Linked DNA regions of Homo sapiens. The protein of the gene in region 2 purifies or fractionates together with the protein of the main gene of each other region. This does not show direct contact. Each region holds a gene or a part of one and is shown on either strand. Other genes may lie near its edges.

Region 1 (3,500 bases), on a different chromosome or scaffold from region 2:
TATGTTTAAAGAAATAATTAGGTCTCAAAAAGGATAAAACTCAACATGAAAGCCAAATAAGTCAAGAGATAAGCAAAGATCACCAGGTATAAAAATCTATATAAACTGAATATGTATGCAATGATTCATTTATTTGTTTACTTATTTATTTCATTATTTTTTTAAAGATGGTCTTGTTCTGTCTCCAAGTGGCTGGAGCGCAGCTCACAGCAGCCTCAACTTCCTGAGCGCAAGTGATCCTCCCATTTCAGCCTCCCAAGTTGCTGGGACTGCAGGCATGCACCACCCTGCCTGGCTAATTTTTAAAAAATGTATTTGTAGAGACAGGGTCTCACCATGTAGCCAAGGTTGGTCTTGAACTCCTGGCCTTAAGTGATCCTCCTGCCTTAGCCTCCCAAAGTGCTGGGATTACAGGCATGAGCCACCATGCCTGGCCAGCATTTAAAACACAAACCACTCAACAAAAAATAAATAATATACAGGCCTATTTTTAAGCAATTAAATTCTTACTCATCTTACCTTCCAGCCAGTTACACTGAAAGTCTTTCCAGCACTTCCTATTGTTATTGTTCTCTCCCACATACCTGGAAAAGTAGCTAAACAGAGGAGGAAAAAAGGGTAAATATTGTTTTCCAATTAATCACATTTAGTATAATCTAAAAACATAACAAAGATACATAAATTCAATGAAAATAAGTGTGTTATAATTTAGCCAGTATAGTTATTTCTAGTTTTTTTTTTAGATAATGTAACTTTAATGCAAAACACAGACGAAAAGTTTACAATACTGTAATGTTGCACCAAGATAGTATATAAATAGATTTAATAATTTTAAAATTAGTTCTGGGGCAGGAGTGTCAGGGGCACCAGCAGGCAGTGTTCCAGACTGCCTTAAGTGGCAGCTGTCACAGGAGCTGTAGCATTCAGTGTTCAATGTTAGCAGTGACTGCAGGTTCGATAAAATAGGCCAGTGGCAGGGCTTAGGTTGTGATCCTGATTATTGTTTAGGCCCCTTTATTTTGCCTATTTTCTGAGTGTATTTCTCCAGGCTTCCTAGAGCAATGGCTCTTAAAATGTGATCTCACACTAGCAATATCAGCATCACTGGGCAACTTGTAAGAAAGGCAAATCACTGGGCCTCATCCCAGACCTACTGAATCAGAAACTCTGGGAGTGGGACCCAGTAATCATGTGTGCACATGTGTGTGTGTGTGTGCATGTGTGTGTGTATGTGTGTATGGGCGTGTGTTTTGCTAACAACTTTATTGGGATATAAATCCCATAAATTCACCAATTTAAAGTATGCCATTCAGTGATTTTTTTAGTATATCTATAGATCTGTGCAACTATCACCATAACCAATTTCAGAACACTTTTTTTATCTCAAAAGAAGCCCTGTACCTTTTAGCTATCACTCTTTAATATCCTCATGGCCATTGTGCCTGAATGAAACTTATCAAACACACATATTTTCTCCGTAAGGAACATCACAGCCTTCTTGCACTTAGGAATACTAGACAGCACTTCAGCACTAGGCTTGGGGGCCATTTTAAACAGCAAAATCACTGTACAGAGAACAATTGCTTATAGTGTGAATTGAAACAGAAGCATAATGTTGCCTTGTTTGACCTCGACTGGGAATGTGTGTAGGGTGACTCAAATTTCCCCTTTATTGATTTTGGAATTACACATATATTTTAGGAAGTAGGCAAATTTGCAAATACAGAACTCAAGAATAATGTGAATTGGCTGTATAATGGTTTTCAAGTTGTTTAACATCTTTAATAAAGACATTGATTCATTCATACATCAAATATTCATTAGCAACCACCAGGTGCTAAGGACTAAGGTCTAGAGGAACCAAAAATGAATAAGATGCAATTCTTCAAAAAATTTAATGTCTAGTAGGGACATGAGCCACATACAATGACAACTGTAATGCAGTGTGATAAATGCTGTAGTAGGAGGCATGGAGGGTGATGCAAGAATAGAAGAGGGTGTTGAGGGTGGCTTTCTGCAGCCAGTAATTCTTAAGCTGAGACATAGAAGACCACATAGGCTGTAGCCAGGCAGAGAAGGGGAATGAAGATATTTTGGGCTAAGAAAATGCAGGTAACAAAGGTCTAGAGGTCTAAAATGCAAGAGTTTGTAAATTTTGCTAGACATTGGTAATAACTGGTAAATTACCATTCTGTCACTCTTCTGACAATGCCACCCACAATACTGCTTTGTGGATTCCTCAAGTAATTTACTTGTGAAGTTCTTTCCATGCAACCCACAAGTTTTTCCACTTGTTTTTCAGAAGCACAAGTGGGGGCTCTTGTATTGTCCTTAGAGTGTTGGTACACACAAAGGGAAAATAAATGCTCATCTCTGGGAATCTAAGCTTCTGCTTTCTTGAAGTAATCTGCTCATAAGCAAGTAAAGTGCCTACTAAAATGTAAGGCAGCTACAGAAATTTCCAAAACAACGTATAAGTAATTTCAGTCTACCCTGAAATACCTGCTAAATTTGAAACAGTAGGAAAAGCATATAAATCAGAAAAGTTATAATTTTATTCTCTGTGGAATATGACAAAACCCAAAAAGATAAATGAGAAAAATAGTTAGAATGTCCACTTGAAGAAGGAATACTTTAAGATTTGATATAAATAATTATATCCCTTCTGAGACATTTCTGGTCTTCCAAAATACTCCAAAAGAACACTATGACACATGCCCCACTTTTCTATTTGATCAGAGAAAATCTAAACTACGTATAATGCAGATTATCACTTCCTTTAAAGTAAAGGATACATCATATATTAAAGGACTACTGTTGCACTTTGCAAATTGATGTAATGGCCATTTTGTAGCCATTTTGCATCTTTAATGTAACAAAGACTATTGTATTCGATAGAATACCTAAGTTTTAATGCAAACAAATTGCACTTTCTAAATAATGAAATAGTGTATCCATTTTTTGGTCTTATTTAAACTTTATGGGCTGCTACAAATAAAAAAATCTAAGTTCAAAATATACATCTTGCATATCTTTAGTAAATACTGTTGCATATCTTTAGTAAATAATGTTACCAGTTATGCTTTACCCTGAAGGGCTTAAAATGAGTAGATCTAAACAATAAATTTCAAGATGATCTAAAGTGATTTTTTGGGATGAATATTGCTACACTGAGTTAATTACAACAAGAAAGTAATTGTTCATGTTAATCTGATTTTCCACTGGGAAACAGTTCAAATTACTTGAGACAGAGGTCACCAACAAGATGGGCAATTGTGGCCTCTGATACAATTTAAAACATGATAACATTTTGGTGTATTAAGGTGTCACACCCTGCAAATCTCTGGCTGCCTTCTCTGTTTATATATTCCCCTTGAGAAAATTCATTCTCTTCCATGTGTCCAGCTACCACCAACATTTTGATGACTGCCAAAAATATATCCCATTATAATTTGATTCTGACGATCAGGCCTATAATTCCACTTGTCCCCAGATATCTA
Region 2 (3,500 bases):
AGAACTGCCTTATTTGATACATAAAGCTTTTCCCCTTCATAATTTTTATTGACTTTTGTGTCTTAGTGCTTAAAAAAGAATAAAGCATTCCTCAAACAAGTTTTTCAAATATAGAACTGTGGGAAGTAAAAGATCAAAGAACAATAATAAGCAGTCCAACCTAATAAGTCATATTGATCAGTAAGCTGTGTATCTTCCCCATCTGAAAATTCACTAATGAGAATCAGCAGTGGCTGATCTTAAAATGCTTTGAAACTGTGATAGGCTCATATGGAAAGTAAATGAAGTGAAAGACAAGCCTCAAACAGTGCAAAAATAATTCTGCTAACCTCTTCGGTTTACTAATTAGTAATACATTTTGTTCTTTGGAGCCCCGAGAAGATCTAAATGGCTGAGGCATTTAAATAATGAATAGAAAAGAAATAGGGAAGATAATTTATCCTTGTCTATTTTTAATTAGTATAAACATTTGACTAGATTAGCCTATGTCAACGTGTACTGGAGCTGAAGCTAAACTTCATTTAAGACACATGTGAAAGATAAGAACTACTAGTCAGAGACTGGGTCATAACTACCAGCAGTCAATCCAAAGAGGCTTTTAGGTATATTTTTAACGCTGTGGGTCTTGAGATCATCAATGAACATTTACTCAATGCCCACTTAAGGAGTCTCTTTTTCTATTGAATATAGTGTATTGTACAAAACAATATTTAAAAAGTGTATGTTTTAGAAATATTTGGAAGTTCACACAAATACAAAATCCAAACACAACTTACCGTAACTTCCAGTCACATTGGCACATATAACAGCCCCAAAGAATTCTGGAAAATGCTTCTGGATTCTTGAAATCACTTTTTGGCAAGCTATGGTTGGATCTTCTCCTCTTCTCATGTATTCTACAGCTTGGTAGCTGATTGAAACAGAGGTGAAACCTTAGTGTCTCAGAATAAATACTAACTCCAAATTGGGTTACTTGAAGTTAGAAATTAAAACCACCAAAATTGCCACATGTGATAGAATACACATAAATGAACAAGAGTCGGTTACTTCTGTTAAAGCATCCACAAAGCAAGTCCACTTTGATACAGAGTCTATCTTTTCAACTAATCCACCCATGAATTTCAGATGTGGAATATTATTTTTGGCTTTGGCTGAATAACTGTCAGTAATGATACCGACAGTCAAATGTAATGGCCAGAACTCAAAAAGAATACAGATTTTCAATGAGAAAAACAGCTACAATCAAAGGGGAAAGTAGTGTGCATGGGCACAACATCTAGCTAGGGTGGTTAAAGGTACACGATGACTGCACTTCCTACTTTTACCATCAATTATCACAGCTCCTTTACTCAGTAGCTTTACATCAATTACTAAATAGATCATAAGTATTCTCATCTGGGAAGCAGGGTGAGAAATACTACTTTATTTCACAGGACTATGATTACTTAACTTGAATGATTATCATTATCAAAATGATAGGCAACAAGTTTGTATGCAGTTTCTAAGAAGCTCTTGTGCACAGAAATTCAGGTTACACAATACAAAAATTATGTTTTCTTTCTTTTATTTTCTTGAGACACAGTCTCATTCTTGTTGCCCACACTGGAGTGCAGTGGCGCGATCTTGGTTCACTGCAACCTCTGTCTCCCAGGTTCAAGCGATTCTCCTACCACAGCCTCCCGAGTAGCTGGGACTATAGACTTGTGCCACCATGCCCAGCTAAATTTTTTGTATTTTTAGTAGAAACGGTCAGGAGTTCGAGACCATGTTGGCCAGGCTGGTCTCAAACTCCTGACCTCAGGTGATCCACCTGCCTCAGTCTCCCAAAATGCTAGGATTACAGTCGTGAGCCACTGCACCCAGCCTCAAAAATTATTTTCTATCTTAAAAGAAAAAAATATCTTCTCCAAAGGTCTCTAAAATTCACAAACTAAGAAGTCATACCTTGGCAGGAAGCGCATCAATATATCACCATTCCCAGTGGCTGCGGCTGCCCCTGCAGTATCGTCAGCATAGGCTCCAGCTCCAGGTATTGGTGAGTCTCCTACACGGCTTTGAGAGGGTATTAACAATTTACGGCAGGAAATCGAGTGTAAAACACATTAAGTCATAAGCTGTTCCAAATAAGGGATAGTTCCACTTAGCCTCTGATACCGTTTTAAGTAAATTCTTCATCGGAACAAAGACAGAACAGGTCTTCATTAGTTTTTTAACTAAGGTTTTCACAAACCTGCATTAATTATGTAAGAATTTGTTATCAGACGTGGAGTGTACAACAGCTGAACTCACAGAAACAGAGACTAAAATGGTGGTTACTGGAGGCTGGGGGGAGGGGGACCTGGCGAGATGCGGGTCAAAGGACACACAATTCCAGTTAGGCAGGAGGGTAAGTTCCAGAGGCCTACTGCGGATCATGCTGACTAAGGTTAATAACAATAGAGTGCACATTTGAAAACTGCGAAGTAGATTTTTTTTTTTTGAGACAGGAGTCTTGCTCTGTCACCCAGCTGGAGTGCAATGGCATTGATCTTGGCTCACTGCAACCTCCGCCTCCTGGGTTCAAGCGATTCTCCCTGCCTCAGCCTCCTGAGTAGCTGGGACTACAGACACGAACCACCAAGCTCAGCTAATTTTTTGTATTTTTTTTTTTTTCAGTAGAGACTGGGTTTCACCATGTTGGCCAGGCTGGTCTCGAACTCCTGACCTCAGGTGATCTGCCTGCCTTGGCCTCCCAAAGAGCTGGGATTACAGGCGTGAGCCACTGCACCCAGCTGAAAACTGCTAAGTAGATTTTAAGTGTTCTCACCATAATAAAATAGGTCTGTGAGATAATAAGTTAAATAGCTTGATTTAGCCATTCTACAACATATACATATATCAAAGTATCATGTTGTACACCACAAATACACATAATTTTCATTGTCATTAAAATTAATTTTTTAAAAGAACTTGTTATCAGCCAGGTATATACCAGGATGGCACAGATTTACAGTGACTATTCTATTATTACCATCCTTTATCATCTAATTTCCAGATGATTGCAACATGTTCAAAATTGGTTTCCCTCATCTATAATCTATTTCCGCTTCCTATGTAATGTGCCAAACTTTTACCAGATTTTTTTCTAGTAAGAAATGTTTAATGCTTTTCTATTTCAAAATTAAATCCAGAATGCCTTCAACTGACTTAAGACTCCTTAAATCTGGCCCCAGTCTTCCCTTGTAGTCTTATCTTCCAATACCACTTCCCCTACCCCAAAATACACACACACCCCCACACCCCTTCTTCCCTAGCCAGTGGGAGCCCTGAATACACACACACACACCCACACCAGTGGGAGCCCTGAGCGTGCACGCACACGCACACATACACACACACACCCCTTCTTTCCAAGCCAGTAGTTCTGCGTGCACGCACACACACACACACACACACACCCCTTCTTTCCAAGCCAGTGGGAGTTCTGAACACATGCACACATACACACACCCCAGTGGGAG
Region 3 (2,788 bases), on a different chromosome or scaffold from region 2:
CACTGCATTAGCGAGGATGGTCTCGATCTCCTGACCTCGCATCTGCCCGCCTCAGCCTCCCAATGTGCTGGGATTACAGGCGTGAGCCACCGCGCCCGGCCTTATGTATTTATTTTTTTGAGACAGAGTCTCGCTGTGTCGTCAGGCTAGAGTGCTGTGGCACGATCTCGGCTCACTGCAACCTCCAACTCCCTGGTTCAAAGGATTCTCCAGCCTCCACCTCCCGAGTAGCTGGGATTACAGGCGTGCACCACCACACCCAGCTAATTTTTGTATTTTTAGTAGAGACGGGGTTTCTCCATGTTGGTCAGCCTGGTCTCGAACTCCCGACCTCAGCTGATCCACCCGCCTTGGCCTCCCAAAGTGCTGGGATTACAGGCGTGAGCCACCGAGCCTGGCCAAACCATCACTTTTCATGAGCAGGGATGCACCCACTGGCACTCCTGCACCTCCCACCCTCCCCCTCGCCAAGTCCACCCCTTCCTTCCTCACCCCACATCCCCTCACCTACATTCTGCAACCACAGGGGCCTTCTCTCCCCTGTCCTTTCCCTACCCAGAGCCAAGTTTGTTTATCTGTTTACAACCAGTATTTACCTAGCAAGTCTTCCATCAGATAGCATTTGGAGAGCTGGGGGTGTCACAGTGAACCACGACCTCTAGGCCAGTGGGAGAGTCAGTCACACAAACTGTGAGTCCATGACTTGGGGCTTAGCCAGCACCCACCACCCCACGCGCCACCCCACAACCCCGGGTAGAGGAGTCTGAATCTGGAGCCGCCCCCAGCCCAGCCCCGTGCTTTTTGCGTCCTGGTGTTTGTTCCTTCCCGGTGCCTGTCACTCAAGCACACTAGTGACTATCGCCAGAGGGAAAGGGAGCTGCAGGAAGCGAGGCTGGAGAGCAGGAGGGGCTCTGCGCAGAAATTCTTTTGAGTTCCTATGGGCCAGGGCGTCCGGGTGCGCGCATTCCTCTCCGCCCCAGGATTGGGCGAAGCCCTCCGGCTCGCACTCGCTCGCCCGTGTGTTCCCCGATCCCGCTGGAGTCGATGCGCGTCCAGCGCGTGCCAGGCCGGGGCGGGGGTGCGGGCTGACTTTCTCCCTCGCTAGGGACGCTCCGGCGCCCGAAAGGAAAGGGTGGCGCTGCGCTCCGGGGTGCACGAGCCGACAGCGCCCGACCCCAACGGGCCGGCCCCGCCAGCGCCGCTACCGCCCTGCCCCCGGGCGAGCGGGATGGGCGGGAGTGGAGTGGCGGGTGGAGGGTGGAGACGTCCTGGCCCCCGCCCCGCGTGCACCCCCAGGGGAGGCCGAGCCCGCCGCCCGGCCCCGCGCAGGCCCCGCCCGGGACTCCCCTGCGGTCCAGGCCGCGCCCCGGGCTCCGCGCCAGCCAATGAGCGCCGCCCGGCCGGGCGTGCCCCCGCGCCCCAAGCATAAACCCTGGCGCGCTCGCGGGCCGGCACTCTTCTGGTCCCCACAGACTCAGAGAGAACCCACCATGGTGCTGTCTCCTGCCGACAAGACCAACGTCAAGGCCGCCTGGGGTAAGGTCGGCGCGCACGCTGGCGAGTATGGTGCGGAGGCCCTGGAGAGGTGAGGCTCCCTCCCCTGCTCCGACCCGGGCTCCTCGCCCGCCCGGACCCACAGGCCACCCTCAACCGTCCTGGCCCCGGACCCAAACCCCACCCCTCACTCTGCTTCTCCCCGCAGGATGTTCCTGTCCTTCCCCACCACCAAGACCTACTTCCCGCACTTCGACCTGAGCCACGGCTCTGCCCAGGTTAAGGGCCACGGCAAGAAGGTGGCCGACGCGCTGACCAACGCCGTGGCGCACGTGGACGACATGCCCAACGCGCTGTCCGCCCTGAGCGACCTGCACGCGCACAAGCTTCGGGTGGACCCGGTCAACTTCAAGGTGAGCGGCGGGCCGGGAGCGATCTGGGTCGAGGGGCGAGATGGCGCCTTCCTCTCAGGGCAGAGGATCACGCGGGTTGCGGGAGGTGTAGCGCAGGCGGCGGCTGCGGGCCTGGGCCGCACTGACCCTCTTCTCTGCACAGCTCCTAAGCCACTGCCTGCTGGTGACCCTGGCCGCCCACCTCCCCGCCGAGTTCACCCCTGCGGTGCACGCCTCCCTGGACAAGTTCCTGGCTTCTGTGAGCACCGTGCTGACCTCCAAATACCGTTAAGCTGGAGCCTCGGTAGCCGTTCCTCCTGCCCGCTGGGCCTCCCAACGGGCCCTCCTCCCCTCCTTGCACCGGCCCTTCCTGGTCTTTGAATAAAGTCTGAGTGGGCAGCAGCCTGTGTGTGCCTGGGTTCTCTCTATCCCGGAATGTGCCAACAATGGAGGTGTTTACCTGTCTCAGACCAAGGACCTCTCTGCAGCTGCATGGGGCTGGGGAGGGAGAACTGCAGGGAGTATGGGAGGGGAAGCTGAGGTGGGCCTGCTCAAGAGAAGGTGCTGAACCATCCCCTGTCCTGAGAGGTGCCAGGCCTGCAGGCAGTGGCTCAGAAGCTGGGGAGGAGAGAGGCATCCAGGGTTCTACTCAGGGAGTCCCAGCATCGCCACCCTCCTTTGAAATCTCCCTGGTTGAACCCAGTTAACATACGCTCTCCATCAAAACAAAACGAAACAAAACAAACTAGCAAAATAGGCTGTCCCCAGTGCAAGTGCAGGTGCCAGAACATTTCTCTCATTCCCACCCCTTCCTGCCAGAGGGTAGGTGGCTGGAGTGAGGGTGCTGGCCCTACTCACACTTCCTGTGTCACGGTGACCCTCTGAGAGCAGCCCAGTCAGTG
Region 4 (3,500 bases), on a different chromosome or scaffold from region 2:
ATTAGCCAAGTGTGGTGGCATGCTCCTATAGTCCCAGGTACTCAGGAGGTGGACACAGAAGGATCACTTGAGGCCAGGAATTTGAGATTGCAGTGAGCCGTGATTGCACTACTGCTCTCCAGCCTAGGCAACAGCCAGACCCTGTCTGGGGGAAAAAAAAATTCCATAGACTACTAAAGTTTAAGAACTTGTGAAATCTTTTTACTATCAGAAATCTCTTTTGTTACATATGTATTACTGGCCAAGACATCTGGAAGTTCAGAGATACAATGCTGATAATCTGCTTTCCAGATTTGGTTTACAAATGGTGGGTTTTATTTGGTCTGCCATAGTCTTGACACTGTACTCCAGCCTGAGCAATAGAGTGAGACCATGTCTCAGAACAAACCAAAACTGCTTAAAGATTTATTTCTTTACTACAATAAACCTACCAAAAGTTTTTCACGTGTAATGAAAGAAAATTAATCTCACTTGAAACTCATTTTCTTAAAATATCGTTGATATAGATGAGTAACGAAAGAGGCTTTGAAAATGTAGAACTGGGAGTCATAGGAAAAAAGAAGAAAGTCCCAAGGAGAGTCATCCACTTTGTTAGTGGTGAAACAATGGAAGAATATAGCACAGATGAAGACGAAGTTGATGGCCTGGAGAAGAAAGATGTTTTGCCTACTGTTGATCCGGTAGGTTTGATATTGATGATTCTTTCCTCAGTGGGCTTTGTTTTGATTTATTTTTTTTCCCTAAACATTGAGTGGAAGGGACCTTTTGAGGTTTAAATCAACTATATTCTTATTATAAAATTATGTATGGTGATTTTGATAGAAAATAATATTTTTACATGATATGGACGGAAATATTTCCAGCATTTCAGTAGCCTGAAACAGCTTGTTTTTCAGTGTCAGAGTACTGTGTTAGTATGGATAGATTTAAGATTGATCAGCCAGGCGCGGTGGCTCACACCTGTAATCCCAGCACTTTGGGAAGCTGAGGTGGGTGGATCACCTGAGGTCAGGAGTTTGAGAACAGCCTGGCCAACATGGCAAAACGCCATCTCTACTAAAAATACAAAAAATTAGCTGGACGTATTGGTGGACACCTGTAATCCCAGCTACTTGGGAGGCTGAGGCAGGAGAATTGCTTGAATCTGGGAGGTGGAGGTTGCGGTGAACCAAGGTTATGCCATTGCACTCCAGCCTCGGGGACAGAGCGAGACTCTGTCTCAAAAAAAAGATTTATCTTACTAAATTGAGTGCTTGAATCCCAGTTCCTTTGATTTAAGGACTGTACTGCCATGATAGTTTCCACCCAAAACTTAGGGAGTTGTCAGCTTTTTAAAATACTGCCTCAACAGGAGAATGGCATGAACCCGGGAGGCAGAGCTTGCAGTGAGCCGAGATCGCGCCACTGCACTACAGCCTGGGCAACAGAGTGAGACTCCATCTCAAAAACAAAACAAAACAAAACAAAAGTTTGCTTCAAGTTTTGATTGGAAGATAAGAATATACATTTCTGAACTTTGTGTGCCTTATCAACTAACTTGGAGAATTTCTAAATTATACAAGATGTGACTGTACAATTATGAGACTAGCTATATATTTATAAAGAAATTTTTATTTATTTATAAAGAAATGCCCTTCAAGTAATTATTTTGAGAGTCCAGGTAATCACATATTTACTGACTTTCTAACAGGTACTATTTTAGGTGCCGGTGATATAGCAGTGGGTGATATAAATTTCTGCTCTCATATACTAGTGAGAAGACAGGCAATAAATAAATATATACTATAATTATCAGGCTATGAAAAGTGCTATAAAGAAAATTAAGCATAGTTACAGAATAGAGAATTGTTTATATTTGATTTTAAAAATGTTACTCCTTTTCATCAGATTTGGCTTTAAATATTTGGCTATTAGAAAATCATGCCAGGTGTGGTGGCTGACACCTGTAATCCCAGCGCTTTGGGAGGTCGAGGCAGGCAGATCACCTGAGGTCGGGAGTTCAAGACCAGCCTGACCAACATGGAGAAACCCCATCTCTACTAAAAATACAAAAAAATTAGCCAGGCATGGTGGTGCATGCCTGTAATCCCAGCTACCCAGGAGGCTGAGGCAGGAGAATCGCTTGAACCCAGGAGGCGAAGGTTGCGGTGGGCCAAGATCGTGCCATTGCACTCCAGCCTGGGCAATAAGAGCGAAACTTGGTCTCAAAAAATAAAAAAATAAAAAATAAAATAAAAAATGATAAGCAGGCCAGGAGCAATGGTTCACGCCTATAATCGCAGCACTTTGGGAGGCCGAGGTGGGTGGATCACCTGAGGTCAGGAGTTCGAGACCAGCCTGGCCAACATGGTGAAACTCTGTCTCTACTAAAAATACAAAAAATTAGGCAGGCGTGATGGCAGGCGCCTGTAATCCCAGCTACTCAGGAGGCTGAGGCAGGAGAATTGCTTCAACCCGGGAAGCAGAGGTTGCAGTGAGCCGAGATCGTGCCATTGTACTCCAGCCTGGTCAACAAGGGTGAAACTCCATCTAAAAAAAAAAAAAAAATCGGATATTCTACACAGAAAATATTCAAAGATTGTACCATATACTTTGAAGGTAGTTCCAAATGCAGGTAGAATATTAGGGGTACATAACTAGGACTAGAATTGCTGGGTCATGCAATAACTGTTTTTTTTTTTTTTTTGAGACAGGGTCTGTCACTCAGGCTGGAGTTCAGTGGCACAATCTTGGCTCACTGAAGCCTCTGCCTCCTGGGTTTAAGCGATTCTCGTGCCTCAGCCTCCCAAGTAGCTGGGATTGCAGGCATACACCTCCACGCCCGGCTAATTTTTGTATTTTTTTTAGTAGAGATGCAGTTTCACCATGTTGGTTAAGCTGGTCTCGAGCTCCTGCCTCAGCCTCCCAAAGTGCTGGGATTACAGGCATGAGCCACCACACACAGCCCTAAGTCTATGTTTAGATGTCTGGGGAACTGCCTGACTGTTTTCCAAAGTGGCTGCACTATTTTAAATTCCTACCAGCAGTGTGTAAGGATAATGATTTCTCCACATATTCAGCATCACTTGTTACTATGTGTCTTTTTATTTTTTTGTTCTCTTGTGCCTTTGCTATGTATCTTCTTGATTTTAGCAACCCTAGTGAATATGTTATTTCATTGTCGTTTTGATTTACATTCCCTTGATGGTCAGTGATGTTGAGCATCCTTTCAGGTGCATATTGGCCATTTGTAATCTTCCTTTGCTTATTTTGATTAGGTTATTTATTTATTTTTATTTTTTGAGAGGGAGTCTGGCTCTGTCACCCAGACTGGAGTGCAGTGGCGTGATCTTAGCTTACTGCAACCTCTGCCTCCCTGGTTTAAGCAACTTTCCTGCCTCAGCCTCCTGAGTAGCTGGGACTACAGAAACGCACCACCACACCCAGCTAATTTTTGTATTTTTAGTAGAGACATGCTTTCACTATGTTGGCCAGGCTGGTCTTAAACTCCTGACCTCAAG

The links.
Region 1: the proteins of AGA (region 2) and KYAT3 fractionate together in Homo sapiens (co-fractionation; one large-scale study listed by BioGRID). This does not show direct contact.
Region 3: the proteins of AGA (region 2) and HBA2 purify together in Homo sapiens (affinity purification with mass spectrometry, with the first as the bait; 3 studies listed by BioGRID). This does not show direct contact.
Region 4: the proteins of AGA (region 2) and FAM177A1 fractionate together in Homo sapiens (co-fractionation; one large-scale study listed by BioGRID). This does not show direct contact.

The regions. Positions count from the first base shown.
Region 1 is NC_000001.11:88,954,630-88,958,129, forward strand, and holds part of KYAT3 (kynurenine--oxoglutarate transaminase 3), read right to left. Parts: intron 597-3,500; coding exon 520-596; intron 1-519. UniProt on the Homo sapiens protein: Catalyzes the irreversible transamination of the L-tryptophan metabolite L-kynurenine to form kynurenic acid (KA), an intermediate in the tryptophan catabolic pathway which is also a broad spectrum antagonist of the three ionotropic excitatory amino acid receptors among others.
Region 2 is NC_000004.12:177,432,438-177,435,937, forward strand, and holds part of AGA (N(4)-(beta-N-acetylglucosaminyl)-L-asparaginase isoform 1 preproprotein), read right to left. Parts: intron 2,053-3,500; coding exon 1,945-2,052; intron 911-1,944; coding exon 777-910; intron 1-776. UniProt on the Homo sapiens protein: Cleaves the GlcNAc-Asn bond which joins oligosaccharides to the peptide of asparagine-linked glycoproteins.
Region 3 is NC_000016.10:171,423-174,210, forward strand, and holds HBA2 (hemoglobin subunit alpha), read left to right. Parts: upstream 1-1,453; 5' UTR 1,454-1,490; coding exon 1,491-1,585; intron 1,586-1,702; coding exon 1,703-1,907; intron 1,908-2,049; coding exon 2,050-2,178; 3' UTR 2,179-2,288; downstream 2,289-2,788. UniProt on the Homo sapiens protein: Involved in oxygen transport from the lung to the various peripheral tissues.
Region 4 is NC_000014.9:35,052,772-35,056,271, forward strand, and holds part of FAM177A1 (protein FAM177A1 isoform 1 precursor), read left to right. Parts: intron 1-506; coding exon 507-680; intron 681-3,500.